Linked DNA regions of Homo sapiens. The protein of the gene in region 1 purifies or fractionates together with the protein of each later gene. This does not show direct contact. Each region holds a gene or a part of one and is shown in the gene's direction. Other genes may lie near its edges. The genes, in order: AMZ1, IFT56, WASF1, ANAPC7, ZYG11B, NCKAP1 and CYFIP1.

Evidence for each region.
Region 2: the proteins of AMZ1 (region 1) and IFT56 purify together in Homo sapiens (affinity purification with mass spectrometry; one large-scale study listed by BioGRID and IntAct). This does not show direct contact.
Region 3: the proteins of AMZ1 (region 1) and WASF1 purify together in Homo sapiens (affinity purification with mass spectrometry; 2 studies listed by BioGRID and IntAct, with this or other methods). This does not show direct contact.
Region 4: the proteins of AMZ1 (region 1) and ANAPC7 purify together in Homo sapiens (affinity purification with mass spectrometry, with the first as the bait; one large-scale study listed by BioGRID). This does not show direct contact.
Region 5: the proteins of AMZ1 (region 1) and ZYG11B purify together in Homo sapiens (affinity purification with mass spectrometry; one large-scale study listed by BioGRID and IntAct). This does not show direct contact.
Region 6: the proteins of AMZ1 (region 1) and NCKAP1 purify together in Homo sapiens (affinity purification with mass spectrometry; 2 studies listed by BioGRID and IntAct, with this or other methods). This does not show direct contact.
Region 7: the proteins of AMZ1 (region 1) and CYFIP1 purify together in Homo sapiens (affinity purification with mass spectrometry; 2 studies listed by BioGRID and IntAct, with this or other methods). This does not show direct contact.

What each region holds. Positions count from the first base shown.
Region 1 is NC_000007.14:2,715,384-2,719,808, forward strand, and holds the end of AMZ1 (archaemetzincin-1), read left to right. Parts: 3' UTR 1-4,300; downstream 4,301-4,425. UniProt on the Homo sapiens protein: Probable zinc metalloprotease.
Region 2 is NC_000007.14:139,167,698-139,172,122, forward strand, and holds part of IFT56 (intraflagellar transport protein 56), read left to right. Parts: intron 1-646; coding exon 647-700; intron 701-1,591; coding exon 1,592-1,655; intron 1,656-4,425. UniProt on the Homo sapiens protein: Component of the intraflagellar transport (IFT) complex B required for transport of proteins in the motile cilium.
Region 3 is NC_000006.12:110,123,638-110,128,062, reverse strand, and holds part of WASF1 (actin-binding protein WASF1), read left to right. Parts: intron 1-433; 5' UTR 434-461; coding exon 462-594; intron 595-4,425.
Region 4 is NC_000012.12:110,389,633-110,394,057, reverse strand, and holds part of ANAPC7 (anaphase-promoting complex subunit 7), read left to right. Parts: intron 1-4,425. UniProt on the Homo sapiens protein: Component of the anaphase promoting complex/cyclosome (APC/C), a cell cycle-regulated E3 ubiquitin ligase that controls progression through mitosis and the G1 phase of the cell cycle.
Region 5 is NC_000001.11:52,816,259-52,820,683, forward strand, and holds part of ZYG11B (protein zyg-11 homolog B), read left to right. Parts: intron 1-273; coding exon 274-371; intron 372-4,425. UniProt on the Homo sapiens protein: Serves as substrate adapter subunit in the E3 ubiquitin ligase complex ZYG11B-CUL2-Elongin BC. Acts to target substrates bearing N-terminal degrons for proteasomal degradation with the first four residues of substrates being the key recognition elements.
Region 6 is NC_000002.12:182,954,733-182,959,157, reverse strand, and holds part of NCKAP1 (nck-associated protein 1), read left to right. Parts: intron 1-1,561; coding exon 1,562-1,701; intron 1,702-2,564; coding exon 2,565-2,696; intron 2,697-4,425. UniProt on the Homo sapiens protein: Part of the WAVE complex that regulates lamellipodia formation. The WAVE complex regulates actin filament reorganization via its interaction with the Arp2/3 complex. Actin remodeling activity is regulated by RAC1.
Region 7 is NC_000015.10:22,917,475-22,921,899, reverse strand, and holds part of CYFIP1 (cytoplasmic FMR1-interacting protein 1), read left to right. Parts: intron 1-3,041; coding exon 3,042-3,208; intron 3,209-3,964; coding exon 3,965-4,112; intron 4,113-4,425. UniProt on the Homo sapiens protein: Component of the CYFIP1-EIF4E-FMR1 complex which binds to the mRNA cap and mediates translational repression. In the CYFIP1-EIF4E-FMR1 complex this subunit is an adapter between EIF4E and FMR1.

The sequences.
Region 1 (4,425 bases):
GCAAAAGGTTAACCGCTGGAGTGATGCGAGATTAAACAGAGGTGATAAAAATAGAATGCCTGGCTCATGCTGAGGGTGGGAGCCCACTGGGGTTATGACCAAAGCCTCGGCGCTCTCTGTACCCGTGTCCTTTGACCCTCAGCTGTGATGTGTGTCCCAAAAAAGCGTTTTGAAGTGGGAAGGAGCAAACCACTAAAAAAAACTCCTTTTATCCGCAGCGTTTACCAACTTGCAGATGTCAGTGAAATTTTTTAAGACAGCTGTTAGAAGGACTGTTTTGAAATGCAACTTTGAGGAAGAGAAATTGGTTTCCCTCCTCTCCCCCGTGTTAGCCCCAGGTTCTGTCTGTGCTGTGGTGAAGAGTGACTTGGGACAGTCACCAGGAAAGACGCAAGGCAGAGGAGAGAGAATGAGGGCTGCCTTCTCGAGGAAGGTCACAGCTCACGAATCTTTCTAAACTTAAGTGCTGCAGAAGTTGAACTGAGATTAAATTTAGAGATGATGGTTTCCAAGACACACAGGGCCACGGTTCTTTCAGTTTTTAAACACGTGCAAAGTCCACTGAATTGCTTTCTCGTCTCATCTGTCAGAAGCCCCTGCATTCACAAGGATGGGTCTTCCAGCTTGACGATGACCTCTCTTCGGAGAGCCTCACCCATCTTGGTAAGCCAAGTCAGCGGGGCCTCATGGAGCTAAAAATAGTTTCAGGTCATGACAGATGTTATCTGTATTGCTGTGTGTGCGATGAGTCTGGGGAAGCTAACACATGCCTTCTGAAGTGGCTAGAATACACACTCCCACGTCACAGCCATGCTATGATGAAGGGGTGAGAAGCAGTGTCCCCTCTGAGGCAAATCTCTCTTCAGGCAGCCCCGCAGTCCTCTTCCGAAATCTCATTCTTTTCCCTCTCTTCCTCCCCAAAAAGCCCAAACTCATTGTCAGAGTGGGGAGAGGGGAGAAGCAGCATCCTGACTCCTGTCCATGGTGTGAACCCTGAGGGCACGGGACAGTGAGTGGAGCTCTGCCACCACCCGTTTCCAGAGCATGGGTGAGGAGGGAGGGATGCCGACCTGTTAATATTTGCTTCAGACCTTTCCCCGATGAACGAAATCTCCAAAAGCCTTAAACATAAAATGGCTTAGTCAAGCACGAGTGATAAAGCTGGGAGTCCAAATTTAGATCCCACCAAGTTCAAAGGGGGAGGCTAGAACATTCCAGGGACACACCTACACGCAGAGGGTCTCCATACAGTGCCAAGGGAGCTGCTCTGCAGACCCACCAGGCAGGGACGGCCAGGCCTCGGAGAGAGGGACCGGCTGCCCTGCCCAAGGCCCACCTGGACAGGCAAGTCTTCCCTAGTGGGTCAGTCAACTCCACCGCTTAAGGGGTCCTTCCTATGTAACGGAATTTTTTTACATCATCATCGAGTCTCGAAATGACCTGTAAGGCAGATGGCTGCATCCCCACCATATGGCTGTGGCTGTCGAGATGGGACTGGGAAGGGCTGGAGCCTCAGAAACGGCAGAGCGGAAGTTGAGGCGCAGTCTGTTCTTGCTTGAACCCCGAGTTCTCCCGCTGTTGTGCAGCTTTCTAAAAGCAAGCTGGAGCGGTCTGAGCAGGAAGAGAGTAAGAAGGCGCACGGACGCGGGAGGCCTGCACCCTGATCCCTGAGCAGCCCCCACACACCGGCACCCACGCCCCTCGGTTCTGATAACCAGGAGGCTTTCTGGCCCGTGCAGCTCCTTCGGACTCTGAGGAGAGGCCTGGGTGGGTGGCCGGCACTCTTAGGTGAGGTGCCAACGAAAACACCCCCGTGATTGCTGGGGCTTCACTGATTTGTTTTGTTTATAAAAGGAGGGCGAGGCCTGCACAGGAATATTTTTATCCCCGTGAAGACGGAGAGAATCAGGGCTTCGCGACGGGGCTCATAGACCTGAACTGGGTCTGCCTGCCTGTGTGCTGGAAGCAAACGACGGCCCGTCCTCTAAGCTGGCTTTGCAGCTCCAGTAAGAGTGAGAGACTCACGGGGGCCTGGCTGCCGTCCTGGGAGAGGCCCCGGGAACCGGCTCGCCCTGTACCCAAGGGCTCTCTGGAGCTCACCCCGCACGCAGGCTGCTCCAGAGCTGAAATCTAGCTGTGATCCCTGTGGGGCAACTGCACACAGAGGTGCCCAGTTTCAAGGAAACCTAAAGCAGCAGCAAATTTATGGCTCTTGGAACACGAGGCTGTCAAAGATAAACACCGCAGGGTAATCTAGGAAACACTTCCGGCTTGACTGTAAAGAGCCCTGGCCTGCGAACGCTGTTAAAAACAGATGCAGATCGCGGGTGGAGACGGCCGGCCGAGCCTTCCCTTTTCTGACATCCTACAGCAGCACCTTGATGAATGAGAACCCGGAAGAATGGAGGTTTATTTTTGAACTCAGCTTCTTGGGTAGGGAGGCAAATGAAAACAGGCTGATGTCAGGGGTTTATTTTAAAAAGCAATTTCCAAGAAGCGTCCTGGGGTCACCACGCGTTCAGTCCAACTCTTCCCCGCTGCAGTGTTCCCGTGACGATGAGGCAAATCCAAATAGTCACCGGAGTCGAGCAAACACGGCGGCCCCTGCCTCCCCCGGCGGCTCCACAATGGCCCTCAGAGGGTCCGCGGCAGCCAGGCCCGTCCAACCTCCTGCCCTCTCTGAGAGGGGCCCGAGCTCTCGCAAGATTAACCAGAGACGACACCTACCAGATTCCACCACTGAGGCCTCCCTCGATGCCTGCTCCCTGGGCTTTTTAATGAACGCACTTCTGTCACATGGAAACTGAGCCCGGCATGGAGTCACGTGGCTCCACCCTGGGGCTCCTCTGATGCCGAGAGCTCTGGCTCTCCTGACTGTGGGCCCAGTGTCCATTTTCTCTCTCAGGCAGGGTGCTCTGCCCGCCACAGTGTGCCTGGTTTTCTGGATACAGCATGACTGAACCGCCCCTTCTCAGCAAAGGCCAACACGTCTTTCTCGAGTCCAAGACCATCTCCCGTTCAAGGGCCCTCACCGCGCTTTGTGAGTCTGTCTCGTGGGCCTCCTTCAGTGGTCTGTGACCAGCGGGAATGAATGGGGACGTGTTTTGTTCAGCCCTGACTCTTGGACGCTGGTGGCAGCCGCGGGCGCCCACTCACCTGGCACGTGGACGAAGGTGATGAGCGCGGCTGACGGCTCCCGGGGGCAGTGTGGGGTCCAGTCTGAAGCCGACGCCCCTCTCGGTCAGGCTTTCAGCAGCAGAAGGCAGTGGACTCTTCACCATTTCTTCCAACACTTTCTCACGTAGGAGCTCCACTGTCCCTTCTAACAGGACAGGGCTTGTGCAGCCGGGCTTGGTCTTGTGGTCAGGGAGAAGCGGGCAGGCCAGGGCCGAGCTGCGTCCGGCTCTCAGGGACTTCCTCTCCCTGTGCTCTGCCCACCTGGGGTAGGCCTCTGGGAACAGGGGAGTCACAGAAACCACGGGAAACGGAGTGGGTTGGAAGAGGCAGAGAACACGCTTTTCTCAGGGTCGCTTAACACAGGCAGGGGTACAGGAGAGCTCCGGCCATTTATTCCAAATGTATGAGCAGGAAGGAAAGAGGGAGGGAAGCTGCAAGAACAGGCGACTTTTTTTTTTTTTTTTCCCCCCCATCTGAAGTGAGATCAAACTTCTACCACATTCTACCTGTGCCCTTCTGGGTGGGTGGTGGCCGTCCTCTTGGGCGCCCCCTTGTGAGGGCTCGAGGCCTTTACTGGATGGGCAGGATGCGGGCAGCAGCTTTGTCGGCTGCCAACCCAACTCCTCCGACAGAACGGCAGGTGGCCCCTGTCGGAAGGGGGGTGTCTCTTTATTCCTGCCATCCTCCGGCCGCCTCTCCCGCCTGCACCACTTGGAGGCAGTTGTTTCACGTGGGGCTCTTGATGGCATAACCTGATGTCTGTCACGGACCCCCAAGCAGGAGCAATGCCTAAAGAGGGCAAAGGCCCGCGCGCCTGGCAGAGCTCCCTCCTCTGCTCCAACAGCAGAGCCCAGAGCATCCCTTGGCCCGACGCACAAGTCCCACAATAGCCTCTCCCAACGGGAACGACTTAGCCCTAATTACATGAGCTTTGATCACCGCTCGATTGTATGGCACAGTTATTTTTAAAAATCCAGTCCAAGTGGAAATACACCTGGAACATTTTATACTGCAATGACTGATGGACGACTTTGATATACAAAATAAATTGTTACTCAGCTTTTCTATAATGCTTACATCTTACATTTTCATTCTCAAAATTAATAAATGCTATCAACCCCAATTTTTTTTTTTTTTGAGATGGAGTTTCGCTCTTGTTGCCCAGCCTGGAGTGCAATGGTGTGATCTTGGCTCACTGCAACCTCTGCCTTCCAGTTTCAAGCGATTCTCCTGCCTCAGCCTCCCACG
Region 2 (4,425 bases), about 140 Mb from region 1:
GGAGGCCAAGGCAGGTGGATCACCTGAGGTCCAGAGTTCGAGACCAGCCTGGCCAACATGGTGAAACCCCGTCTCTACTACAAATACAAAAAAATTAGCCGGGTGTGGTGGCTGGGGCCTGTAATCCCAGCTACTCGGGAGGCTGAGGTAGGAGAATTGCTAAAACCCTGGGGGTGGAGGTTGCAGTGGGCTGAGATCACGCCACTGTACTCCAGCCTGGGCGACAGAGCAAGACTCGGTCTCAAAAAAAAAAAAAAATTGGAAAAGAAAAATAATATATATGATATGGTCACAGAGAATGGCAGTGGTTGAGAAGGTAATAAAAATTATTATATCAACATTTTACTTTTTTTTCCATAGAATTGAAATAAAATGAAACTTATCTGCTGGAGCTTCCACTAAATTATTTTTGCTTAAGATTGAGAATTTACAAATATGGTAAATTTTGTTATATAGATACTTGGCTGCTGGAAACTAAATGAGTGTCTCCTAATTCTTTTATTCAAGCCAGGGATAGAACAGAGAAAAGTAACTGTGGGTAATCTTTGATACTTTATATAAAGTATTGAGTTAATGCAAGGAGTTAATTTGAAAATGATCTCATAGCTCCACATTCCTCTTAATCAGTGTTATTCCATGTTTCTAGGAGTATATTCTCAAAGGAGTGGTCAATGCAGCCCTTGGCCAGGAAATGGGTTCAGTGAGTATGAAATCACTGATAATCTATAGGTTGCAAAGTTATAAGTGTATGGAAGAGAACAAAATGACTATCAAAGTGCAAGCAGCAATAGGCTCTCCTGTAGCTCCTTTTATTTCTCCATATCCCCCAATCCAGACTCCACTGAGAAAAGAATGTTATGTTATTTAGAGACAAAAAAAAAAAACAAAAAAAAAACTTGTAACCCTAAAGACTCCTGCTTGTTTAAAAGGGTCCAATTTTTAAATAGCAACTTATTTAATAACTAACTTAAAAATCATTGCGCAACTTCATTCTTATTTGCAGCGACTTTTTTTAAACTTACATATATCTAGCTATAATTTTGGCATCTGTAAAGTAGGGAAAATTGTTTCTCTGGAGAAGTTATTTTTATAAACACCAAAACACTGTCTAAAATTAAGCTCTTATCCATCTTAATACAGCGTTCTTTGTTCTTTTTGGAACAAAATGGGATACAAATAAATCTTTTTATCTCAAGTTCATTCTGCAGTGCCTTGTATAGTAGATAGGCAGCAAATATTTATTAAATAAATGAGTTTAATAAATACTCCTTGTTATATCTACAGCTCCTGTTCCAAGGTCTGATATATGGTAAAAGAGCAATAGGTATTTGTAGAATGATTGAGTTCATTTAATGAAGTTTTAGGATAGAATTTAAGGATTTGATTCTTTTTCTTCTCCTCTGCCTGTCCCTGCACAGGTTTTAATTCAGTTTCGGGTCTAGTTGTTATGTTAATGAGAATTAGTATTGTTTGGGGCAAGATTTAAAACAAAGGTATATTTAAATCCTGACAAATATGTTAGAACCATATAGTATAATAAAATAAAATATTTTTACCTTATTCCTCTATATCAGCTCAGTTTGTTTTTCAGAGGGATCATATGAAAATTGCCCAGCAGTTCTTCCAGTTGGTGGGAGGATCAGCTAGTGAATGTGGTATGTCTGAAATCTGTACTTATGATCTGCTTCATAATTGGAGTGGGGCATATATTGACCGTGAAGTTTGATTCTCTGTCTAGGGATGTATCTATTAGGCTTCACATTATAAAGTGGGAGGTCAGAAATAAGAGAGAATATTGGAATTAGTTCTTCTCAACATCTCAGCGAAAGTGGGATAAGAGAATAAATAGAGTAAATTTCCTGTTTTGTTCCTGAGAGTTTTAAAACTTTGAATCAGTTTTAGATATAAAATGTTATTTTTTACTGAGTTTTCAAGAGCTCTTTTGAGCATTAACTTTTGTCACATTCTGGTAGGTCATTTGCCTTTAAACTTTGCCTATGATATTTTTTTCCATATAAAAATATTAAAACCAGCCAGGCATGCTGGCTTAGGCTTGTAATCCCAGTACTTTGGGAGGCTGAGGCAGGCAGATGGCTTGAGCCCAGGAGTTCAGGACCAGCCTGGGCAACATAGGAAGACCCCATCTCTATAAGTAATAATAAAAAAATCAGCCAGGTATGGTGGCACACACCTATGGCCCCAGCTACTTGAGAGGCTGAGGTGTCAGGACTGCCTGAGCCCAGGAAGTTGAGGCTGCAGTGAGCCATGATTACACCACTGCATTCCAGCCTGGGCAACAGAGTGAGACCGTCATCTCAAATATGTATACACCATACAACCAATACTACAGAAATTCAAAGAATCACCACGGGCTACTATGAGCAATGATATGTCAGTAAATTGGAAAACCTAGAAGAAATGGACAAATTCCTAGACACATACAACCAACCAAGATTGAACCATGAAGAAATCCAAAACCTGAGCAAACCAATAACAAGTAATGAGATCAAAGCCATAATAACAAGATTCCCTGTAAAGAAAAGCCCAGGACCCATTGGCTTCACTGTAGAATTCTACCAAACATTTAAAGAAAAACTAATACCAATCCTACTCAAACTATTCCAAAAAAGAAAGGAGGAGGGAATATTTCCTCTCATTCTTCAAAACCAGTATTGCCCTGATAACAAAACCAAAGGCACATCAAAAAAAGAAAACTAAAGTCCAATATCTCAAATGAAGAGGGATGAAAAAATTGTTAACAAAATATTAGCAAACAGAATTCAACAACACATTAAAAAGATCATTCATCATGACCAACTGAGATTTATCCCAGGAATGCAAGAATGGTCCAACATATGCAAATCAATGGGATACATCATATCAGCAGAATGAAGGGCAAAAACCATATGATCATTTCAATTGATGCTGGAAAAGCATTTGATTAAATTCAACATCCCTTTATGATAAAAATCCCCCCAAAAACTGAGTATAAATGGAACATACCTCAAAACAATGAAATCCATATATGACAGGCCCACAGCTAGTATCATATTGAATGGGGAAAGTGGGAAGCCTTTCCTCTAAGATCTGGAACAAGACAAGGATGCCCACTTTCACCACTGTTATTCAACATAGCACTGGAAGTCCTAGCTAGTAATCAGACAAGAGAAAGAAATAAAGGACATCTGAATTGAAAAGGAAGAAGTTAAATTATCCTTGTTTGCAGATGATATGATCTTATATTTGGAAAAACCTAAAAACTCCACCAAAAAACTATTAGAACTCATAAGCAAATGTGGTAAAATTGCAGGATACAAAACCAGCAAACAAAAATCGTTGGCATTTCTATATGCCAACAGCAAACAATCTGAAAATCAAAAAAGTAATCTCATTTATAATAGCTACCAATAAAATTTAAAAATCTTAGGAATTAACCAAAGTAGTGAAATATTTCTACAATAAAAACTATAAAACATTGATGCAAGAAATTGAAGAGGACACACAAAAAAGGAAAGATATTCCATGTTCATAGATTGGGAGAATCAATGTTGTTAAAATGTTCATACTACCCAAAGCAATCTGCAAATTCAATGCAATCCCTATGAAAATACCAATGATATTCTTCATAAAAATAGAAAAAACAATCCTAAAATTTATACAGAACCACAAAAGACCAGAATAGCCAAAGCTGTTCTGAGCAGAAAGGACAAAACTGGAGGAATCACTGTACCTGACTTCTAATTATACCTCAGAGCTATAGTAACCAAAACAGCATGGTACTGGCATAAACACAGACATATAGACCAATGGAGCACATTAAGAGAACCCAGAAATAATCCATATGTCTACAGTGAACTCATTTTTGACAAAGGTGCCAAGAACCTGTAGAGAAAGGACAGTCTCTTCAATAAATTATGCTGGGAAAACTGGATATCCATATGCAGAAGAATGAAACTAGACTCCCATCTCTTACCCTATACAAAAATCAAATCAAAATGGATTAAAGACTGAAATCTAAGACCTTAAATAAGGAAAATTCTACAAGAAAACATTGGGGAAACTCTCCAGGACATTGGTGTGGGCAAAGACTTCTTTTTATGTTGTTGTTCTTGTTTTTGTTTTCTTTCAAACAAGATAGGCTTTATTTAGATCACCAAAACTAACATTTTACAGAAAGGTAGCCATAACATTACACAGCAAAGTATAGCTGTAAAATCTCAAACAAGAAACACAATGCTTTCTTTAGATCACCAAAAATAATGTTTCATAGAGAGGGAACTGTTAGAAGCAAACGTGTAGCTGCAAATTTTCTTTTGCCGTCAATATCGAGTCCCTCTAAAATACTTTGAGACTACTTTGTGGTTTCCAAGTACAAACTAAACCTTGTTGGACAGAGTTGCTCAGCTTCATCAAAAGAATGAAACC
Region 3 (4,425 bases), on another chromosome or scaffold:
CTTCTGACTTTCCAAAAACTTAACTACTTATAGACTACTGTTGACCAGAAGCCTTACCGAGAACATAAAGTGTTGTTTAACATATTTTGTAAGTTATATGTATTATATGCTGCATTCTTACAATAAAATAAACCAGAGAAAATAAAATGTTATTAAAAATCATAAGATAATTAACTATTAAGTGGAAGTGAATCATCATAAAGTCTTCATCCTTGTCATTTTCACCTTGAGTAGGCTGAGGAGGAAGAGGAGGGGTTTGTCCTGCTGTCTCAGGGAGGCAGAGAGGGAAGAAAATCCACCAGTAAGTGGACCCAGGCAGTTCAAATCCATGTTGTTCAAGGGTCAACAGTGCTTTATTCTTCAATGAAAAATAAAGTCTCATTCTGTGTTGGCTGAAATTTAATATTGTTAATTTATTTTTGATTTCCTACAGGTGAACTGGCACAAAGGTTAATCTCAAGATGCCGCTAGTGAAAAGAAACATCGATCCTAGGCACTTGTGCCACACAGCACTGCCTAGAGGCATTAAGAATGAACTGGAATGTGTAACCAATATTTCCTTGGCAAATATAATTAGACAACTAAGTAGCCTAAGTAAGTATATATCAATTAAAAATATACTCACAAACCAGAATGTTATGCTTTAGCGTATTAAGAAGTTGTGCTTCTGATTAATTTGGGAGTATGATTTGGTGAGAAGAGTACAAAATTATCCTGAAAAATATAGTCACATGAGTATAATTATTGAGTTTTACAAGAACCTCTTCTGCATGATGTTTCTTCTGGGAAAGGAAAATACGGACAGAATCTCTAGGAACAGAAACACATGATGAATGAAAATTATTGAGATTGTTTTAAAAATATATAATCTGCGAAAGGACCAGAGTTGTACTTTTCCTTGGTTATTATCACTATTTACTCTGTTTAGAGGCCTCAACTATTTGTGTTTTCAAACACTAGTATCCCTCTCTTTATATATATATTTAATTAGTTTAGGGAAATATTTTTATATTAGCAAAGATCTAAGGTGAGAGGTATGGGGTCATTATTAGTCAGAGGGGTAGGCTAGTCAAGTGGGATGTCTAAGAGACATTAGGATATAAGTCAGGAATCTGATATGCAGCATTGTGTGAAAACAGCAAATGAACTTGGCCTCTGGCAGACAGAAGTCAAGCAGGTTGGCCAGAGAATAAAGGCCAGTGAAAGAGGCAGATTAGGGAGAAGGAGACAGGCAATATGTTCTCATTGCAGATTTACAGAATAGAGCAACTTGGTTAAGGAATTAAACAAATTATTTTCTATTCTAAGTTTATTTAGAAAATTTAAAAAATCTGGTCTGTCTTTTGCATTGAAGGATTAGCTTTTTCATAAGACATTGATATTTCATTTTAAAGGTGAAACAAGGTGTTCTTGGCAGAGATAATATCCACCAAGTGGTCCTAGATTTATCTCATCAGCCATATAAATTCTCCTGATAAGCAGGCTTGGCTTTTCTTTTCTTTTCCTTTTAACTTTTGTCCTTTCTTTTATAATTGAGTACTTAGCACAAGAGGTTGTTAATCTAATTTGTTTCCGGTAAGAAAGTTTAGGCATACCTGTAGCGAGAGCAACATAAAAAGTTACATTTGAATATTCTCTGTGAGAGTACTAAATTTTTGCATTGCCTGTGAAATAGTAAGAATAAATAAAAGGCTATTTTATTTGAATTTTAAGTATATTCCTTGTTCCATTCAGTGGTCATTTTTTTCAGGTTAGTGAATCACTAAAATATTGTATTGTTTACTTGAGGCTAATAAAAAAAGTGTTAGAGTTCCCAGTTTAAATATGATTAACTATATTGTTTAAAGATATTTTGCAGATTTTTTGTGACCTAGCACGGATTGAATCAAGTATAACATGATGTCATATAAAATTTGTTTTATATATGTTATGTACATACATAAGTATATAAGCATGCTAATATTAAAATACATGTTAAGAACATAGAAATGGCATTAGTAATTTTGTATAACATATTTCTTAAAATGAATTGTGGATCCAGTACAGGCATCTTATTTTAGGTATATACCCAATATAGAATTTAGAACTAATATTGTGATTAAGGGTGATAATTTGCAGTACTAACCCATTTGTTACAAAACTTAAAGATGAAAATTTAAGGAATTTTTAAGTCTATATAGTCCATATAAGCAACATCTATCAGCAGGCACATGGTTATGCTGTAGCGAAACTCTGAAAATTATAAATACCTTGTAACAATATAACTAAATTAGGTGTTGGGTGCTTCACATTTAGAATCAGAGACCTGGAAGGCATTGTTTAAGCAGTTTGTAGAGATTCAAAAACAAAGAGAAAACCCATAAAATATTCTAGCAAGGTGTGACAATAGCTTACTGCCCTGAAATTAACTTCTCTGGCAGCTTTCCCACTTGACATAGTTGAGAACCTGGAATTAAATTTAAAAGGCCTCTAGATAGCCAGAATAAATAAACTCATGCACTAAAGACCATGCACATAAAATAACCAATTGATCCCTCTCTCAAAACCTGTTTACTTTTACCTTGATAGTTCAAACAGATTTGATGATGTGGTTTCCAAACAGTTATGCTTCAGAGGATAAAAGGAGGAAGCATGGGAGGAGATACTAGAAGGAGGCATCACTGAACCCAACCAAAAGGAGGTAGTTCACAGGAAAGGACAAAGTGATGTAAGGGAAGATGCAACATAAAAACTGGAAAGAAGCCATTTAATGTAAAGCAAATATCCTTATACATTTCAAGGCTGTTTTCTGGCCTAGGATAATATTTGATTTTCATAATTCATGCCCGTGAGTCCCTAAGAAAAAATTAAATTATGTTTAATTTTATATTCCATTTAAGAAGAGGGAAGCTTAGAATACATTTCACAAGTTTCCATCGAAAATAGTTAAAATAACAATTGATGTATTAGATAATAAAATCTGAATTACTTAGAAAACTTGGCTATCCAAAATGTTTCTAGATAATGGAGATTTTCACTTTGGTGCTATTATTAGTACTGAAAGTGCTTGAGAATATAGCAATGAAAGTAAACTGCAGGGATCCACATGGCTCAGGGCTGGATATCTTCCTGACCTTTTCCTCACAAAAATGTACTTCCTTTTTTTATTTTTTTGAAACAGAGTCTTGCTCTGTCACCCAGGCTGGAGTGCAGTGGTGCGATCTTGGCTCACTACAAACTCCACCTCCCAGGTTCAAGCAATTCTTGTACCTCAGCCACCAAAGCCGCTGGGATTACAGGCGAGTGCCATCATGCCTGGCTAATTTTTGTATTATTTTTAGTAGAAATGGGGTTTTGCCATGTTGGCCAGGCTGGCCTTGAACTTCTGGCCTCAAGTGATCCACCCGCCTCGGCCTCCCAAAGTGCTGGGATTACAGGTGTGAGCCACCATACCCAGCCAGTACATCTGTTTTTTGTGAGATTTTTCCTAGTAGAACATAATTCTGTTTTGTATTAGGTAATTACCACAAACCTATAATTCACTTTATATCAATTTCCTCTTTCTCATTTTATTGCTTTCTTAATGATGCAAGGTTTTTTACTCCTTAGCTGAGCTAGGTCCAGGTTCTTGTCTCACGATGAGGAAGAATTAGGCACACAGATACTCTAAGAGTGAATGGAGTAGAATTTATTAAGTGAAAGGAAAGCTCTCAGCCAAGAGAGGGGTCCTGAAAGCAGGTTCCAGGTTGCCCCGTCACAGTTGAATACAAGGGCATATATATATATATATATATATATATATATATATAGAGAGAGAGAGAGAGAGAGAGAGAGAGAGAGAGAGAGAGGAGAGAGAGGAGAGAGAGGAGAGAGAGAGAGAGAGAGAGAGAGACGCTGATGGGGCTGGGTTCCCTATTTGTATGAGGCACAGATTACTGGTGGCTTCACCACATTTCCCTAGTGCACATGCAGGCCCTTAGTCTGCTGTGGGCATGTTTAAGCAAGCCCCCTGTGCAAGTTCCCTTATCTGCACAAAGCATCTGGTGTAAGCCCTTGTGGGGTGGGTCAGAGGTTCTCTGGGGACCCTTCCCTTACTGTCTGCCTAAAGCAAGCTAGCTAACTCCTTTCATTAACAACCACTGGGATTCTGAATACCTAAGGGATCTCTTCCCCTGGCTTTTCTCTTATGGAATATAGTCAGTTCTTATTGCCAAGATTAGTCTTTTCCATCTCTGTATCTACACCTAGCATTTGTATCCCTACCAATTGTTGAATAAATGAGTAACTTTATACCTGCTTTTTCTTCCATTTGGGATGCTTCCCTTATCTGCCAGAGAAACTGTCTCTGGAAGTATCTTGATCACCAAATAACTTTTGACACCTGAAAGTGAGGTGCTTCTATCTCTGCTGTGTTGCTCTTACCTTATATTAAGAGCTGCCTGTTAT
Region 4 (4,425 bases), on another chromosome or scaffold:
ATTACAGGCACCCGCCACCACGCCCAGCTAATTTTTTTTTTGTATTTTTAGTAGAGATGGTGTTTCACCATGTTGGCCAGGCTGGTCTCGAACTCCTGACTTTGTGATTCGCCTGCCACGGCCTCCCAAAGTGCTAGGATTACAGGCGTGAGCCACCATGTCCGGCTATTTTTTTTTTTTTTTTTTTTTTGAGAGGGAGTTTCGCTCTTGGTGCCCAGGCTGGAGTGCAATGGTGCAATCTCAGCTCACTGCAACCTCTGCCTCCCGGGTTCAAGCAGTTCTCCTGCCTCAGTCTCCCAAATAGCTGGGATTACAGGCATGCGCCACCATGCCCAACTAATTTTGTAATTTTAGTAGAGACTGGGTTTCTCCATGTTGGTCAGGCTGGTCTTGAACTCCCGACTTCAGGTGATCCACCCACCTCGGCCTCACAGAGTGCTGGGGTTACAGGTGGGAGCCACCATGCCCGGCCAATTTTTTTTTTCTTTTTTTTAAATAGAGATGGTCTCCACCATTTGCCCAGGTTGGTCCCAAACTTCTGGGCTCAAGTTGTCCTCCCCCCTTAGCCTCCCAAATTGCTGGGATTACAGGCAGGAGCCACTGCACCTGGCCTCCTTGTGTTTGTTTTTGTTTTTAAGTGAAAGTGAGTTTATTAATAAAATAAAGGAATAAAGAATGGCTACTCCATAGGCAGAGAAGACTTTGATATTTCTTATTATAGGAAATAATGATTTATTTGCAAAACACTTCCAGGTGGCAAAAATACTTTTTTAGAACTTCATTTTTTGCCTTCCATAGGTGTACACATTTGGTAATGGGGGTGGTTTTATTCCTTTGTTTTGAAAATTAATACTGTAAGATTCTTTTATCCTTATTTATGTGTAGAATATGTCTTTGTGTTTGATTTGGCAGCATATTATAGTGAAGAAAACACCTTTAACTAAAATCAAAAGATCTGGTGTCGGCTGGGCATGGTGGCTCATGCCTGTAATCCCAGCACTTTGGGAGGCCGAGGTGGGTGAATCATCTGAGGTTGGGAGTTCGAGACCAGCTTGACCAACATGGAGAAACCCCGTCTCTACTAAAAATATAAAATTAGCCGGGTGTGGTGGCGCATGCCTGTAATCTCAGCTACTCTGGAGGCTGAGGCAGGAGAATCGCTTGAACCCAGGAGGCAGAGGTTGCGGTGAGCCGACGTGGTGCCATTGCACTCCAGCCTGGGCAACAAGAGTGAAACTCCATCTCAAAAAAAACAAAAAAACAAACAAAAAAAGATCTGGTGTCTAGTTTGAGTTTAGGTGCATACAAGCTGTGTGCAGTGTGAACTTGGGCAAGTTACCAATTTGTGAGCTTTACTACTTTTTTATTTATAAAATGAGAAGAATAGTATTTTTTCTGTTACTTTTATAAATACCAAATAAATTCATGAATGTGAGAATATATCAGTATTTAATATTCTAATAATACTGTCATGTCTCCTGCCTTGCTCATTTTATTGAAAAACTGTTTTGTGCAACTTGTGCTTAACAATAAGGAATTTTATAGGTAAAATGACAGGTGCATCCTCCTGCCTTTAAAAGATACGAAATCTAAGCAGTAGGGGCCTGGTGTATTTTAGTTAGTGCTGCTTCATCCAAGTCTTGCTGAACTTTAAAAGTAACCAAACTTGATGAGAACATGTTTAAGCACCTCCTCATATTAAGGTATTATTTACTATTTTCTGAGTTTTTGAAGCTATTTCTTCAGTATGATGGTGGCTGCTATTAAAAACACTTGAAAGTTTATTATGAATTAACCTCTCTCATCATAAGCCTGGATGCTGTATACTAAATCCTGTTCTGGTAACCTATGAAAGTCTTCTCTTACTCCAAGAATAATCTTGTTGCACAGATGAAGAATGTCTGCTGCAATGCTCAAGGTATCTTCCTTTTGTAAGAAGCCTTTTTTTTTTTTTTTTTTTTTTTTGTGAGGTGGAGTCTTGCTGTGTTGCCAGGCTGGAGTGCAGTGGCACAATCTTGGCTCACTGCAACCTCCACCTCCCGGGTTCAAGCGATTCCCCTACCTCAGCCTCCCGAGTAGCTGGGACTACAGGCGTGTGCCACCACGCCCAGCTACTTTTTTGCATTTTAGTGGAGACGGGGTTTCACCATGTTGGCCAGGATGGTCTCGATCTGACCTTAGGTGATCCGCCTGCCTTGGCCTCCCAAAGTGCTGGGATTACAGGCATGAGCCACCACGCCCGGCCAAGAAGCCATTTTAATTATAAACTTTGAAGGATACTATTCCTTACTTTATTAGAAATATACCATAATCTCCTTCATAATGACCTGTGGATATTTGTAGGACTTTTTTTTGAAAATAGTAATGTTAAAGCATCTCAGCTTTATAGCATCCACTGCTTGATTTTCATTGCCATCATTCTTAGAGCACCTGTATGAGTCTGCATTTGTCAGCAGTACATATCCTTCATTCTGTAGTGCTCTTACAGCTAGGAGCAAAGATGTGTGCCTCAAACATAAACCTATAACATTTACAGTTTTTCTTTCTTGTCTGTTAGGGAGTTAACTGGCTTCTCAGTCTATGTAAAGGACAAGGAAGTGAGTCAAAATGTGTCTAAATGAATGTCTGTTAATATATGGTAAACATCGCCACATATTCCCTCACATTTTAAAGGAAAATTCCAGTGTTAGATTATTAAATCTTGGTAAATCTTCACCTTTTAAGAGTAAACATACCAACATAGAATTTCTTACTCAGTTTTTAGAAAATGATGACTGCTTGTGTTTATAACTGGTGGAATGTGGCTTTATGATGTTTTTAAGTGAGTATCTATTTTTAAAATAGTTGACTTTTTTTGTTTGTTTGTTTGAGATGGAGTCTCTCTCTGTTGCCCAGGCTGGAGTGCAATGGCATGATCTCAGCTCACTGCAACCTCCACCTCCTGGGTTCAAGCGATTCTCCTGTCTCAGCCTCCTGAGTAGCTGGTACTACAGGCGCGTACCGCTGCACCTGCCTAATTTTTTGTATTCTAGTAGAGACGGGGTTTCACCATGTTGGCCAGGCTGGTCTCGATCTCCTGACCTCGTGATCCACCCACCTCGGCCTCCCAAAGTGCTAGGATTAGAGGTGTGAACCACTGCGCCCGGCCAATAATTGACTTTTTCATTAGGTATTACTCAAAACTCATTCTTTTAAAGTGACAGTCAAGTAGCTTAAAGGAAATTTTGATATTTGTTGAGAAAGATAGTCCATCAGTCATAGTTTGTTAATATAACCAGCAGTCAAGAAAGGATCTTAAATTTAACTTTTTATTCTTTACAAGTATTGACATCAATCCTGGAGTTTTCCTTTTAAGTATTTTTCTTTGCATTTTCAAAATAGTAGCCTAATATGGAAAATCTGAGGCCAAGTAAAAAATAGTTTTATTTTTAGTATTTCATTATTCCATTGTTTGAATTAGTGTGAATCAATGCTATATTAGATTGTTTTATATAATGTAGGTCTATAATTGGAACAGATGTTCTTTATCTTTAGAGCCACTCTTTCTATAAATATCTGGCATACCAAGCCACAGTTAAATCGAAGAGATTGGGGGTTGACCTTTTTTCTTTTGTGCCCTCACATTGACTGCTTCCTTAGGTTAATGATCTAGCAAATACTGTTGTGTTTAAAATCTACTAATTTTGCCAGACACGGTGGCTCACGCCTGTAATCCCAGCACTTTGGGAGGCCGAGGTGGTTGGATCACCTGAGGTCAGGAGTTCAAGACCAGCCTGGCCAACATGGTGAAACACCATCTCTACTTAAAATACAAAAAAAAAATTAGCTGGGCGTGGTGGCGGGTGCCTGTAATCCCAGCTACTCAGGAGGCTGAGGCAGGAGAATCACTTGAACCCAGGAGGCAGAGGTTGCAGTGAGCTGAGATCGTGCCATCGCACTCTAGCCTGGGTGACAAGCGTGAAACTCCGTCTCAAAAAAAAAAATCTAATTTTAAATTGGAATATTGTGTTTATCTGTGTACTATTAGGAAGGTCTTTTATCACTTGCCTATAACTTCTACATTCTTAGGAACTTTTAGATTTTCTGGCTTTTTTTTTGTTTTTGTGGGTTTTTTTTGTTGTTTTTTGAGACGGAGTCTCGCTCTGTCTCCCAGTCTGGAGTGCAGTGGCACGATCTCGGCTCACTGCAAGCTCTGCCTTCCGGGTTCACGTCATTCTCCTTCCTCAGCCTCCTGAGTAGCTGGGACTACAGGCGCCCGCCACCACGCCCAGCTAATTTTTTGTATTTTTTAGTAGAGACGGGGTTTCACTGTGTTAGCCGGGATGGTCTCAATCTCCTGACCTCGTAATCCACCCACCTCGGCCTCCCAAAGTGCTGGGATTACAGGCATGAGCCACTGCGCCCGGCCAGAACTTTTAGATTTTC
Region 5 (4,425 bases), on another chromosome or scaffold:
ATGTGTATCTTTAAGACTAAAAAGTGCTTTTGGAAAAATTTTTTCTCTTTCACTACCATGTTCTAATCACCTTCCATCTTCTGTACTGAGTCATGTCTGAATGCAGTCTTCTCTGAAATGGTTAAGACAAAGAAATGATATTCTATAGCTCATTTATATTAGTCTAAATATAATAGGATAAAATTTTGAAAATGAAAAGTTTAGGAATCACTGCTTTAGGAAATTACGCTAAATATGGGATGTAACTTTGATTCTTTTCTTTTGAACCTTTAGGTCCTTTAATCCATTTTTCCCATTACTTGGCTGTTTCACAACACCAGGAGTTCAGCTATGGGCAGTTTGGGCCATGCAACATGTCTGCAGCAAGAATCGTATGTACCAAAAAAAAAGAACTGTGTTTTTTTTCTTTAAGTGAAATTCTCATTTCCCAGGAAAGATATTTCTAAATTGTGTATTAAAGTGATTTTTAAGAACACTGACTTAAAATGTAAGGCCATCTTAGGTTATAAACTTAAGGTATTCTTTTTTTTTTTTTTTTTTTTTTTTTGAGACGAAGTCTCGCTCTTGTTCCCCAGGCTGGAGTACAGTGGCGCGATCTCGGCTCACTGGAACCTCCGCCTCCTGGGTTCAAGCGATTCTCCTGCCTCAGCCTCCCGAGTAGCTGAGATATCAGGCACCTGCCACCATGCCCGGCTAATTTTTGTATTATTATTATTTTTTTTTAGTAGAGACGGGGTTTCACCATGTTGGCCAGGCTGGTCTCAAACTCCTGACCTCAGGTGATCCGCCCGCCTAAGCCTCCCAAAGTGCTGGGATTACAGGCATAAGCCACTGTGCCCGGCCAACTTAAGGTATTCTTTCAGAATGAGCATGGTGTAACTAGACACTGAATAATAGTGGTGAATGAGACACTGTTCTCACCTCAAGGAATTTAAAGATTAGGAGACTACAGTGAGTCCATTTGTTGAGTAAAAGGTCTTAAGTAGATCCACTGTTTATGGTACATTCCGGTGCCCAATTCTCATTCACCCAAAATTCTGTTGTTCAAGATGTCGCTGCCAGCACCCATGGTTTCTGAAGAAGCAAAGTGTTTGAATCAGGTTCTATATTATTCTTTGAAAGCTACGATGTAACTCTTATTTATTTATTTAGAGACAAGGTCTGTCTCTATCACTGGAGCTGGAGTGCAGTGGCATAGTAACAGCTCACTGCAACCTTGACGTCCAGGCTCAGATGATCCTCCTGCCTCAGCTTGTAGCTAGGACTACAAGTGCACGTCACCATACCTGGCTTTTTTTTGTATTTTTTGTAGAGATGGGGTTTCATCATGTTGGCCAGGCTGGTGTCAAACTCCTAGGCTCGAACGATCTGCCTGCCTCTTCCTCCCAAAGTGCTGGCATTACAGGCGTCAGCCATCAAGCGTGGCCTAATTATTTATTAATATAAACTCATTCCACAAATGATTTGACACAAGAAATACACAGAACCACTTTAATAGTAAAGTGTGTATATATATGTGTATATATATATATATATATATATATATATATATATATATTTTTTTTTTTTTTTTTTTTTTTTTTTTTTTTTTTTTTTTGAGATGGAGTCTCACTTTGTCACCCAGGCTGGAGTGCAGTGGTGCGATCTCGGCTCACCACACCCTCCACCTCCCAGGTTCAAGCGATTCTCTTGCCTCAACCTCCAGAGTAGCTGGGACTATAGGCCTGCACCACCACACCTGGCTAATTTTCGTATTTTTAGTAGAGACAGGGTTTCACCATTTTGGCTGGGCTGATCTTGAACCCCTGACCTCAGGTGATCCACCGACCTCGGCCTCCCAAAGTGCTGGGCTTACAGGTGTGAGCCACTGTGCCTGGCCTACTTTTAGTTTTAATTAGAAGTAAGGAAAAATAATTTTTCAAAAATTATAGGGGCCGGGCATAATGGCTCATCCCTATAATCCCAGCATTTTCTGAAGTTGAGGTGAGTGGATCGCTTGAGCCCGGGAGTTTGAGACCAGCCTGGGCAACATGGCGAAACCTAGTTTCTATAAAAGATGTAAAAGAAATTAGCCAGGTGTTGTGGTGTGCTCCTGTAGTCCCAGCTACTTGGGAGGCTGAGGTGGCAGCATCATCTGAGCCCAGAAAGCAAGGCTGCAGTGAGCTGTGATGGCACCATGCACTCTGGCCTGGGTGACAGAGTGAGACTCTGTCTCAAAAAGAAAAAAAAAAATTCTAGGATAGAGGGAAAATAGTCAAATGTAGACTTGTAGGCCATGCATAGGGATTTTTGTGGCTCTGCTGCAAGTAAAAAGCGACATGGTTCTCCATATAAGAGGGAAACATTCCATATCCTTGTCAGGGGAGATGGGGAGGGGAGAGAATTTTTTATGAGAAGTTAACTATGAATTAAATTTCTTCTATTGGACCTTAATAGGGGACATACTATAAAGGGCCTTATATAGGATATGTGAGAGTTGTTTTTACTAATATCCTTATAGCAGAAGTAGTAACATTTAGTGAGATTTTCGCTTGGGTTTTTTTTTTTTTTTTGGAGACGGAGTCTCACTCTGTTGCCCAGGCTGGAGTGCAGTGACACGATCTCAGCTCACCACAACCTACACCTCCCAGATTCAAGCATTTCTCCTACCTCAGCCTCCCGAGTAACTGGGACTACAGGAACACGCCACCATGCCCAGCTAATTTTTGTATTTTTAGTAGAGGCTGGGTTTCACAATTTTGGCCAGACTGGTCTCGAACTCACCCGCCTTGGCCTCTCAAAGTGCTGGGATTACAGGCATGAGCCACCGCACCCAGCTCCTTCTCTTGTATTGTTTGATGAAAACTCACTGCATACCACAAAAAGGCAATGCAGTAAAAGCTCTTCTGTGTCAGATAAAGAAGAATAATTCAATGAATGGGATGTGACCGAGAAAACTGCCTTGTACCCACCTGAACTCCCACCTGGAGGCTTATCCGGTCCTTCCTACTACATTACCCAGAAGCAGAGTTGTTCACTCATAAATCGAAAACTGCCTCTTTAGCTACATTAAACTGTCTCTGCCCTAAAGTCGTTTTCTTTTTACTGTACCCACAGGTTCTGAGGACTCCCAAATTTCTTAACAGTTGATCCCATCATATTCCCAGTCTCTAATCTATAGGTTCCTTTCCTCATAACTCAAGGAATGGACCTTTCACAGCTCAGTAGGAGAAAATAAAACATAATAAGTAAATAATAGTGCATTTTTGGCTGGGCATGGTGGCTCACGCCTGTATTCCCAGCACTTTCGGAGGCCAAGGCGGGTGGATCACGAAGTCAGGAGATCGAGACCATCCTGGCTAACATGGTGAAACCCCATCTCTACTAAAAATACAAAAAATTAGCTGTGGGTTGTGGCACACATCTGTACTCTCAGCTACTAGGGAGGCTGAGGCAGGAAAATCACTTGAACTGGGAGGTGGAGGTTACAGTGAGCCGAGATCGCACCACTGCACTTCAGCCTGGGCGACAGAGTGAGACTCTGTCTGAAAAAAAAATAATAATAATAATAATAATAGTGCATTTTCATATGAGTATTTATTTTTGTCACTACTTTTAGGTATTAGAGTTATTTAGGTTTTACTCTATGGAATGACAGCCCTGAATAATTTATTTTATTTTATTTTATTTTTTTTTTGAGACGGAGTCTTGCTGTCGTCCAGGCTAGAGTGCAGTGGCATGATCTCGGCTCACTGCAAGCTCCGCCTCCCACTTCACGCCATTCTCCTGCCTCAGCCTTCCAAGTAGCTGGGACTATAGGCGCCTGCCACCACGCCTGGCTAATTTTTTTGTATTTTTAGTAGAGACGGGGTTTCACCACGTTAGCCAGGATGGTCTCGATCTCCTGACCTCGTTATCTGCTCGCCTCGGCCTCCCAAACTGCTGGGATTACAGGTGTGAGCCACCACGCCCAGCCCCTGAATAATTTATTCTAAAATGCACTGTAATTTGGGGAATATTAGAATATTTTGTCTCCAACTCAGATAGTTTAGGTTCCTACCTTGTGGGCTTATTTTGTTTATATTTAAATGGAATTCACTTCTATTTGTATTAAAATGTTTTAATGTGGCTGGGTGTGGTGGCTCACACCTGTAACCCCAGCACTTTGGGAGGCTGAGGCAGGCAGATCACTTAAGGTCAGGAGTTTGAGACTGGACTGGCCAGCGTGGTAAAACCCCACCTCTACCAAAAATACAAAAATTTAGCCAGGTGTGGTGGCTGGTGCCTATAGTCCCAGCTACCCAGGAGACTGAGGAAGGAGAATTGCTTGAACCCGGGAGGCAGAGGTTGCAGTGAGCCAAAATTGTGCCATTGGACTCCAGCCTGGGCAACACAGCAAGCTGCAGTGAGCCATGATCACACCACTGGGCATGAGCCATGATCACC
Region 6 (4,425 bases), on another chromosome or scaffold:
CCCATGGCTTTAGTTACTATCTAGGTATAATGACTAAATAACTTTCCTTGGCCCAGCTCTGTCCAATGGAGATACTATGTAAACCACATATGTAATTTAAAATTTTGTAGTAGCCATACACAAAACTTAGAAAGAAACAGGTAAAGCTAATTTTAAAAACAATGATTCAACCCTATATACCCCAAAATGTTATTATGTCAGCATGTAATCATATGAATGAAATATTGTATAGTTTTTATTATACTAAATCTTTGAAATCTGGTGTTTATCTTATAACACAGCTGAATTTGGACTGGGCACATTTCACATGTGGCTACTGTAATGTACAGTGAAGCTCTCCTTCTACCTAAAATGTTATTTCTTATTTCTCATTTGCCTGCTTTGTTACCTGTCAAGTGAAATCAATTATTTCTGATTTGTACCTGTGTGGTTTTTTTGTTTTAATTATTGGTCTTAACAATGTGTTAGGTAGAAACCTCTGTGTCATACTTGATTCCTGCTTCTCTCACACATCTAAGTTACTGAATCCTTTCAATTTTATCTCAGAAGTCTGTCTCAGATCTGCCCATTAAAATTTTTTTATTACACTTGCCTATTTCATATCCCTTTTTCATGCCTTGTCTGAACTATTTCTAGCAGCTCTGTTACAATTTTCCTTTTTCAGTGTTTTCTTCTGCCAATATCAGAGTTATCCTTAGAAAATTACCTCTTCATGGCCAGGCATGGTGGCTCACGCTTGTAATCCCAGCACTTTGGGAGGCCGAGGCAGGTGGATCTCCTGAGGTCAGGAGTTCGAGACCAGCCTGGCCAACATGGCGAAACCCCATCTCTACTAAAAATATACAAATAAAATTAGCTGGGTGTGGTGGCAGTCGACTGTAGTCCCAGCAGCTCAGGAGGCTGAGGCAGGAGAACCCAGGAGGCAGAGGTTGCAGTGAGCTGAGATTGTGCCATTGCATTCCAGCCTGGGCAACAAGAGTGAAACTCCTTCTCAAAAGAAAAGAAAAGAAAAGAAAATGTCTCCTCATGCTGTGGCTATTTTAAAAAATTGTCGCTGTCTTTTTGCCTGCAGTTTACAATCCAACCTCTAGCTTGGCATTCAAGGCCCTTCCTAATAGTTGAAACCTCTGTACTTTACCTTACACGTTATGCTCCACCACATAGTAGTTCTAACTACAGCTCTGAACCATCATATCTTTACACAGTTTTTTTCCAAAGGCCATTTAATCCTTCCAGTGAAATATTCTTTTTCATTCCTTGCTTGCCTGGTATGTTTTTACTTGTCTTTTTAATAGTAATTTAAATAAGCGTCTATGAATTTACTCTATGACGTGTTTCTTCACACAAGATTTACCCAAGATCTACCCGTTTCTGTTTTCACCAAGCTATGTGCATTACCCAAGCTAGCTAAGTAAGCTCTGTATCTCACTTATATTTCTGTCTTTTAATATTGTTGTGATATTTGCAACACAGCCTGGATTCAGCTACTGTTTGCTTGAATAGTTAGTATGCTTTCAGAGTAATTGGTGTAATGTAAGATTTCATTCTTTTCTAAATTTAGTTGCTACCCAAGCATTGTGCCAAAACTATCAGTCAAGCAGTGAATAAGAAATCAAAAAAGCAGACTGGTAAGAAAGGGGAACCTGAAAGGGAGAAACCAGGTGTTGAGAGCATGAGGAAAAACAGGCTGGTTGTGACCAAGTAAGTATCCACTTATATTATACCTTTTTGCTCCAGGTAAAATATTTATTTCATTTTTTTCTATTGACATTAGTACTGAGGAAATGCTAATAATTGTATATTCTTCATTTTCCAGCCATTTTAAAAAATATTTCTGAGCTTAATTAACCTGTTAGTTGCTTATTTCATCTCAAAATACAGATTTTGGCCTTTAGAAGAAAATATATGTAATAGTTGATATTTGTCTTTTTATACTAAGTACTGAAGGCCAATTATATGTTTAAAAAATTTTGTGTGTTACATTATAAGCAATCTGTAATTTTTAATTTATTTAAAGTTAGATAGTGGAGACTTTATTTTGGCATGTTTTTGATATATTAGAACATACCCAATGTCATTATTATAAAACAGAAATAACAGACCAGGTAGCATTCAGGGATCTTTGCTTGCTTCATTGTTTGGAGGGGAGGTGTAGGTGGGTAATAATTCGGTAAATATTTTTTGTTTAAAGTATAGTTCCTACTTTCTTGCTAAATTGAGCAAGCCATTGCCCTTTTATAGACAACTTTCCTTCTCTCATAACAGAAAGTACTTCAGGAATTGGGCGTGATTATCTTTATGAGTGCAGAATAAGCTCTACCTTTGTATATTAAGTCAGTATATTCATTACTACCTAAAGGTAGAAACAAATGACGCCATCTTTAGAATATTGCTCTTATGTGTTAGTTATAACCTTAAAGATTTTGAACTTTCTCAGTTTAGGAGAATAAAAAGTCGAATTCTCTAAGCATTATCTCCAAATAAGGTTGATATATTTATAAAATTAATTTTGTATTGCCTGTGATGACATGTGAACATTTTAACTGTTTATTAATTTTTTTCAGCCTTGATAAATTGCACACTGCACTTTCTGAGTTATGCTTCTCTATAAATTATGTACCAAACATGGTGGTATGGGAACATACCTTTACCCCACGAGAATATTTGACTTCTCATCTGGAAATACGCTTTACCAAGTAAGAAAGAATATTGACTGTTTTTGTTTGTTGACTCAGTAATGAGTTTGTTATTTAATTATACAGTGTTTTATAAGGAAAAGCATTAGTAGAACTGGATTAGTGTTAAGAATAATGAACCGGGCCGGGCGTGGTGGCTCACGCCTATAATCCCAGCACTTTGGGAGGCCGAGGTGGGCAGATCACGAGGTCAGGAGATCGAGACCATCCTGGCTAACACAGTGAAACCCCGTCTCTACTAAAAATACAAAAAATTAGCTGGGCGTGGTGGTGGGCACCTGTAGTCCCAGCTACTCGGGAGGCTGAGGCAAGATAATGGCGTGAACCCGGGAGACACACTTGCAGTGAGCCAAGATCATGCCACTGCACTCCAGCCTGGGTGACAGAACAAGACTCTGTCTCAAGAATAATGAACTGGGAAATGCAAAGAATAGTGAACTGAAAATTACTGAAGATACCCAGATTCTTTTCTCATACCTATTAGTATTAACTAGTAACACCAGGCAAACCAGTTAATATCTCTGAGTCATAGCTTCCTTATATACAAAGTGAGAATATTGGAGCAAATCAATGTATTTCATCTTGCAGGTGGCAACCCAGTAGGTTCATGAAATCAGTTTATTAGGTTGTAGTCAAAGTTTAGAGAAAAGTGGGAGGGAAAGAAAGGACAAGAGGAAGAAAAAATAGGAAAAAAAACCCAGTACACTGTGTGCATTAAATATATATATTGCTTCGTGAAATGTTTCAGTTACATGTATGCATGTGTATTGACTTGCAGTGTTAAGATGCGTGTCATGCAGTAGGTCACAGTAAAATGTTTGAAGACCTGAGGACTAGATGAACCCTTACATGTTTTCTGAATTCACATGTTGCTGTTAAATAAGCCAATAGAATTCTAGATTCTTGAATTCTCAATTCTAATTAGAATTTCCTGTTATATATGAATATATATTTTATGTATGTATATGAAATAGTGCATTGATAAGTCAGAAACCTTTCAACTTTATATATATTGTTTTAACCTTTTTCTGAAGTTACATCCTTATTTATTAATATTTATTCATGAAAATTTTTATTTATTTGACAATTTTTTTCTTCAAAGCCTTGAAGCAATTTATAAAACAAAATTTTGCCAAAAGGTTTTCAAAGTTTCTGTAGTCATTAACAGGTGGTGTTTGTATTTGCACTATATGCTTAACAATGTGTTAAGTACTCTAGGTAATAATGAGATAAAGATAGAACTGTAGCTGGTGAGATGACTAAAAGAATTAGAGAACAGAATATGACAGTATATAAAGTGGCACTAAGTTGAGTGTTAAATTATCAGTTGACTTGAGAAGAGTCTGGTGATGAACTGTCTTTTGTTCTCCTTAGTAAGTCAGGCATCCTGACAGTAAAACCCAGAATGCCCTAGAACTTAGACCAAAGGGGCATTGTGCCTTGTGGTGTTTATTATTCTCAAGTGGGTTAGAGGTGGGACATTGGTGGGTGGAAGGGAGAGTTCAGTGTACAGCTCCCTTGTTTTCCTTGTAAACAGTCTGCTTTGTTAATCCACAGAGAAGCAGTTTTTTTTTTAACCAAACATCTACTTAGTGATTAGGATCAAGGCAAGGGGAACAGCTTGTTTACCTTGGAAAGATTTTTTATTTTATTTAATTTATTTATTTATTTATTTTGAGACGGAGTTTTGTTCTTTCGTCCAGGCTGGAGTGCAGTGGCACAATCTCAG
Region 7 (4,425 bases), on another chromosome or scaffold:
CCTATCCCATTGACCTCTGTCTATCCTATGACAGTATTTTTTCATAATCTCTTAATCTGTCTATAAACTGCTAATGTCCCCTTTTTCATTCTTAATGCTGGTAACTCGTGCTTCTTTTTTTTTTTTTTTTTTTTTGAGACAGAGTCTCGCGTGTTGCCCAGGCTAGAGTGCAGTGGCACAATCTCAGCTTACTGCAACCTTCACCTCCCGGGTTCAAGCTACTTCTGGCCAATTTTTGTATTTTTAGTAGATACAGGGTTTCACCAATGTTGGCCTGGCTGGTCTTGAACTCCTGACCTCAAGTGATCCACCCTCCTTGACCTCCCAAAGTGCTGGGATTACAGGCGTGAGCTACTGTGCCTGGCCTGCTTCTCTGTCTTTTTTTTCTTTGTTATTCTTGCTAAGCATTTGTCAGTTTTACTGTTTATTTACTGAACAGCTTTGTCTTTGTTGATCACCCTTGATTATACACTTGTTTTCTGTTTCATTGTTACATTTATTTATTTATTTATTTATTTATTTATTTATTTTTGAGACAGAGTCTCGCTGTGTCACCTAGGCTGGAGTGTAGTGACGCCATCTCAGCTCACTGCAACCTCCACCTCCCAGTTTCAAGCAGTTCTCCTGCCTTAGCCTCCCAAGTAGCTGGGACTACAGGTGTGCACCACCACACCAGGCTAATTTTTGTATTTTTAGTAGAGACGGGGTTTCACCATATTGGCCAGGCTGGTCTCGAACTCCTGACCTTGTGATCCGCCTGCCTCGGCCTCCCAAAATACTGGGATTACAGGCATGAGCCACTGCGCCCGGGTGCTTTTAGTTATTTTTCTTCGATTTTGGGGGGGTTTATTTTGCTGTTTTCTATAAATTAGTGATGAATGTTTGATAAGTATTATGATTTTTATCCTTTTTAGTTTTCTAATGCGTGCATCTAAAGCTCTCAGTTTGCTGTTAACTTGCCTTTTCCTTCTTCCTGTAAGTGTGAATATGTAGGATTGTTATGTTCACTTAAATGGGTTTTTCCTCGTTTGGTTTTTTAAATAGAACTTTTCTTTTTTGTTGATTGGAAAAACAATATAAAATCATCAGTTTTCCAAAGTAAGCATGCTGAAAACACAAGCATGGCATTAGGAAGGCACAGTGCCTGCGGCGCCATCACAGAGATGGCGCTGAGCAGCTGGGTGCGTTTTCTTCCAGACTTTTTCCTTTCTAAAATTTTCATTATTTTAATTGCATATAGACCATGAGTCTTACATGAAAGCAGTCTATTTGGAAATTCTTTACGTTATAGAAGGATGAATTAAAAGCAGACTGTCAACTTTTCCACCTGAAAATTTCATGAAAAAGAAAAGCACCAAAATCATATAAGCCATGTTTCAAGTACTTGTCAGACACGTCTTCATTTACCCATGAATCAGGCTGTTTATAAAGCCATAATGAGGAACTCAAAAGGTGTGAATAAAACCAGAAAGTGATAGAGGGAGACTGTGTGAAGCCTTGGGGAAACACATTTGTGTTCTTGCTAAGTGAACTTCAAACCAACAGATTTAATAAAAGTAGGAAGATGCCTAGCCAAGCATGGTAGTGCATGCTTATAGAACTAGTTACCCAGGAGGCTGAGGCAGGAGGATCGATTGACCCTGGGAGTTCAAGGCTGCAGTGAGCTATGATCATGCCACTGCACTCCAGTCTGGGCAACAGAGTGAGACCCTGTCTCAAAAAAAAAAAAAAAAAAAAAAAGCTGCCTTAATTTTGAATCTGTCAAATACTTAATTTCAAAAGGTTTTTTTTGTTTGTTTGTTTTTTGTTTTTTTTTATTACTGTGGACTGAAGACCATTTTCAGATGTTGAAGTAGGGTTTTTGTTTTGTTTTGTTTTGAGACAGGGTCTCGCTCTGTCACCCAGGCTGGAGAGCAGTGGCATAGTCATGGCTCACTGCAGCCTCGAACTCCTAGGCTCAAGTGATCCTCCTGGCTTAGCCTCCCGAGTAGCTGGGACTATAGGCTCATGCCACCACACCTGGCTAATTTTTAAATTTTTTGTAGAGATGGGGTCTGGCCATTTTGTTCGGGCTGATCTTGAACTCTGGTCTCAAGTGATTCTCCCGCCTCAGCCTCCCAAAGTGCCAGGATTATGGGTGTGAGCCACTGTGCCTGGCCAAAGAAGGGTTGTTAAGATTTTCCCAAATGTATTAGTCTTAGGTACAGCGTTCTAGTTAAAAGATAAAAAGAAGTGAATTATGTTTCACTGGTGCTATTAAATGTTCCACTTTGGTGTCTTATATGTCAGACATCCACACGGCAGGGTGGACTTGGGGTAAGTGTGTCTTGCTCTGCCTCACTTGCTGCTTTCAGAGAGATTTCTAGGCCTCACATAGCTATCATGAAGTTGGCTGTAGAAATATTTATAAACGGCAAAAGCCGTAAGAAAGCTCATGCAATTGTAAAGGTCATACTTGGTTTGTGACCTTCAATTGTTTATTCAGAAAGTAATAAAGCACACTGTCATGACAAAATTACTGTCTGGAAACAGGGAAATAATGAGCCCTGGCACCATTTTTCTGTCCCAGGAATTCCTTTGGAAGCTCTTTGTCATGTAATTATGTTCCATCAGAGTCTTCCAGGCTTTTTCTGTGAATGGTAGTTCACTGCGCCTTTGTTGTGAACAATATGGGATTTGGACTACAACCTCTTGTAACTTCTTTTTCTAGTAATATCATGCCTGCTTTCCTGAGTCTTTTTCTTCTTTCCTATTTGAATTCCATCACAGGAGGGTGTGCTGGGGTGGATGCATGTGTGTTTCGAGTCAGATGCATCCCTGTCCTCCAGGTGCTCATGGTCTGATGGGGAGTCAGATGCGGGCACAGTTCCATTGACTATGGCTTTGGAGAAGACGTTTTGGGGCAGGGCAGCTGCAGGGCACGAACGCGGGAGGGCGTAAGGTGCTGTGGGCGAGGAGGAGCAGCCCCCGGCATGTGCCAGGCAGAGGAGGCTTGGTGCCATCCCTAAGAAGGGCCGTCCCTGTTGCTGTGTCCCCCGCAGGTGATCGCCATGATCAAAGGCCTGCAGGTGCTGATGGGCAGGATGGAGAGCGTGTTCAACCACGCCATCCGGCACACCGTCTATGCCGCACTGCAGGACTTCTCCCAGGTGACCCTTAGGGAGCCGCTGCGGCAGGCCATCAAGAAGAAGAAGAACGTCATCCAGAGGTCAGCCTTCCCCACGCCCTGTGCCCGCTGTGCCCACACGTCCTCGGATGAACTTGGATTCAAACAACAGGAGCGTTAAATTCTCAAAAATGATTTCAATATATTTATCTTCAACCTTCAGATGCCCTCTTGGTGAATTACCTCTAAAAGTAATGCATGGGTCCAATTATTAACCCAAACAATGGACAGTAAGTCAGCTGCCGAGTGTCTAGGGAGTCTGAGGACCCCGGGACAAGGTGCATTTATCCCAGGCTCGCGGTGCCTGTGGTTCATGCATGGTGCCTTATGGGGGTCTCTGCACGGTGGAGCCCTGTTGGTGATGAGGCTGTGTTCCAAACCAGTCGAGAGACATGGCCAGGCTCTGGTCATGTGGGTGACTTCACATTCCTGTTGGTTACTGGGGACAGCCAGCTGCGGGCAGGCGGGGCCCAGCTCTGCTCCGTGCGGAGGCTGTGTTCTGCCCTCTCCCTGCCCACAGCATGACTCAGAGCCACCTCACTGCTGCCCTGGGCTAACAGATGCGAACTGGAGCTCAGGGCAGTCTTCTGGGGGTAGTAATACTCTCCAGAAGGCAGACTCCTTTTTAACTTTCCTGTTGAGCTGGTCCATTACCACATCCCTCCATGGCCCCCAGAGTAATTTGTATTTTCATGGGGGCTGTTCTGAGAGCCTTGTAGTTGGGTGAGGAGATGGTGTGATTGTGAGGCTGGAGGTCTCGGCCTCTGGGCCTTGCTGATCACTTGGTGGGGTGTTCAGTGTCCTGCAGGCCATCAGGAAGACCGTGTGTGACTGGGAGACGGGGCATGAGCCCTTCAATGACCCAGCCTTGCGGGGCGAGAAGGACCCCAAGAGCGGCTTCGACATAAAAGTACCACGCCGCGCCGTGGGACCCTCCAGCACTCAGGTTCTCGTCCCTTGAGCCCCGCCTGCACCCTCTCCCTGGGGGGACCCACCCTGAGCTGTGAGCGGGTGGGGCTGGTGAGGCCCGGGTTAAATGAGGTCCTCGCTGCCTGCTCAGGCAGAGAAAGTGGCGCCTGTGGTTTCTGCTGCTCCTCTGTTTCCCACCCAAGTGAGTTGGGAGCGTGAGGAGACGTGCCTTGATTGTCAGATGTGTCATGTGCACTAAAAAGGAGTCTGACTCCATTTCAACTCCCATCCCAAAAATGTGGGCACAAGTCCACGTGTCTGTATTCATTCTGTGTTTCTTGATGGGTGTT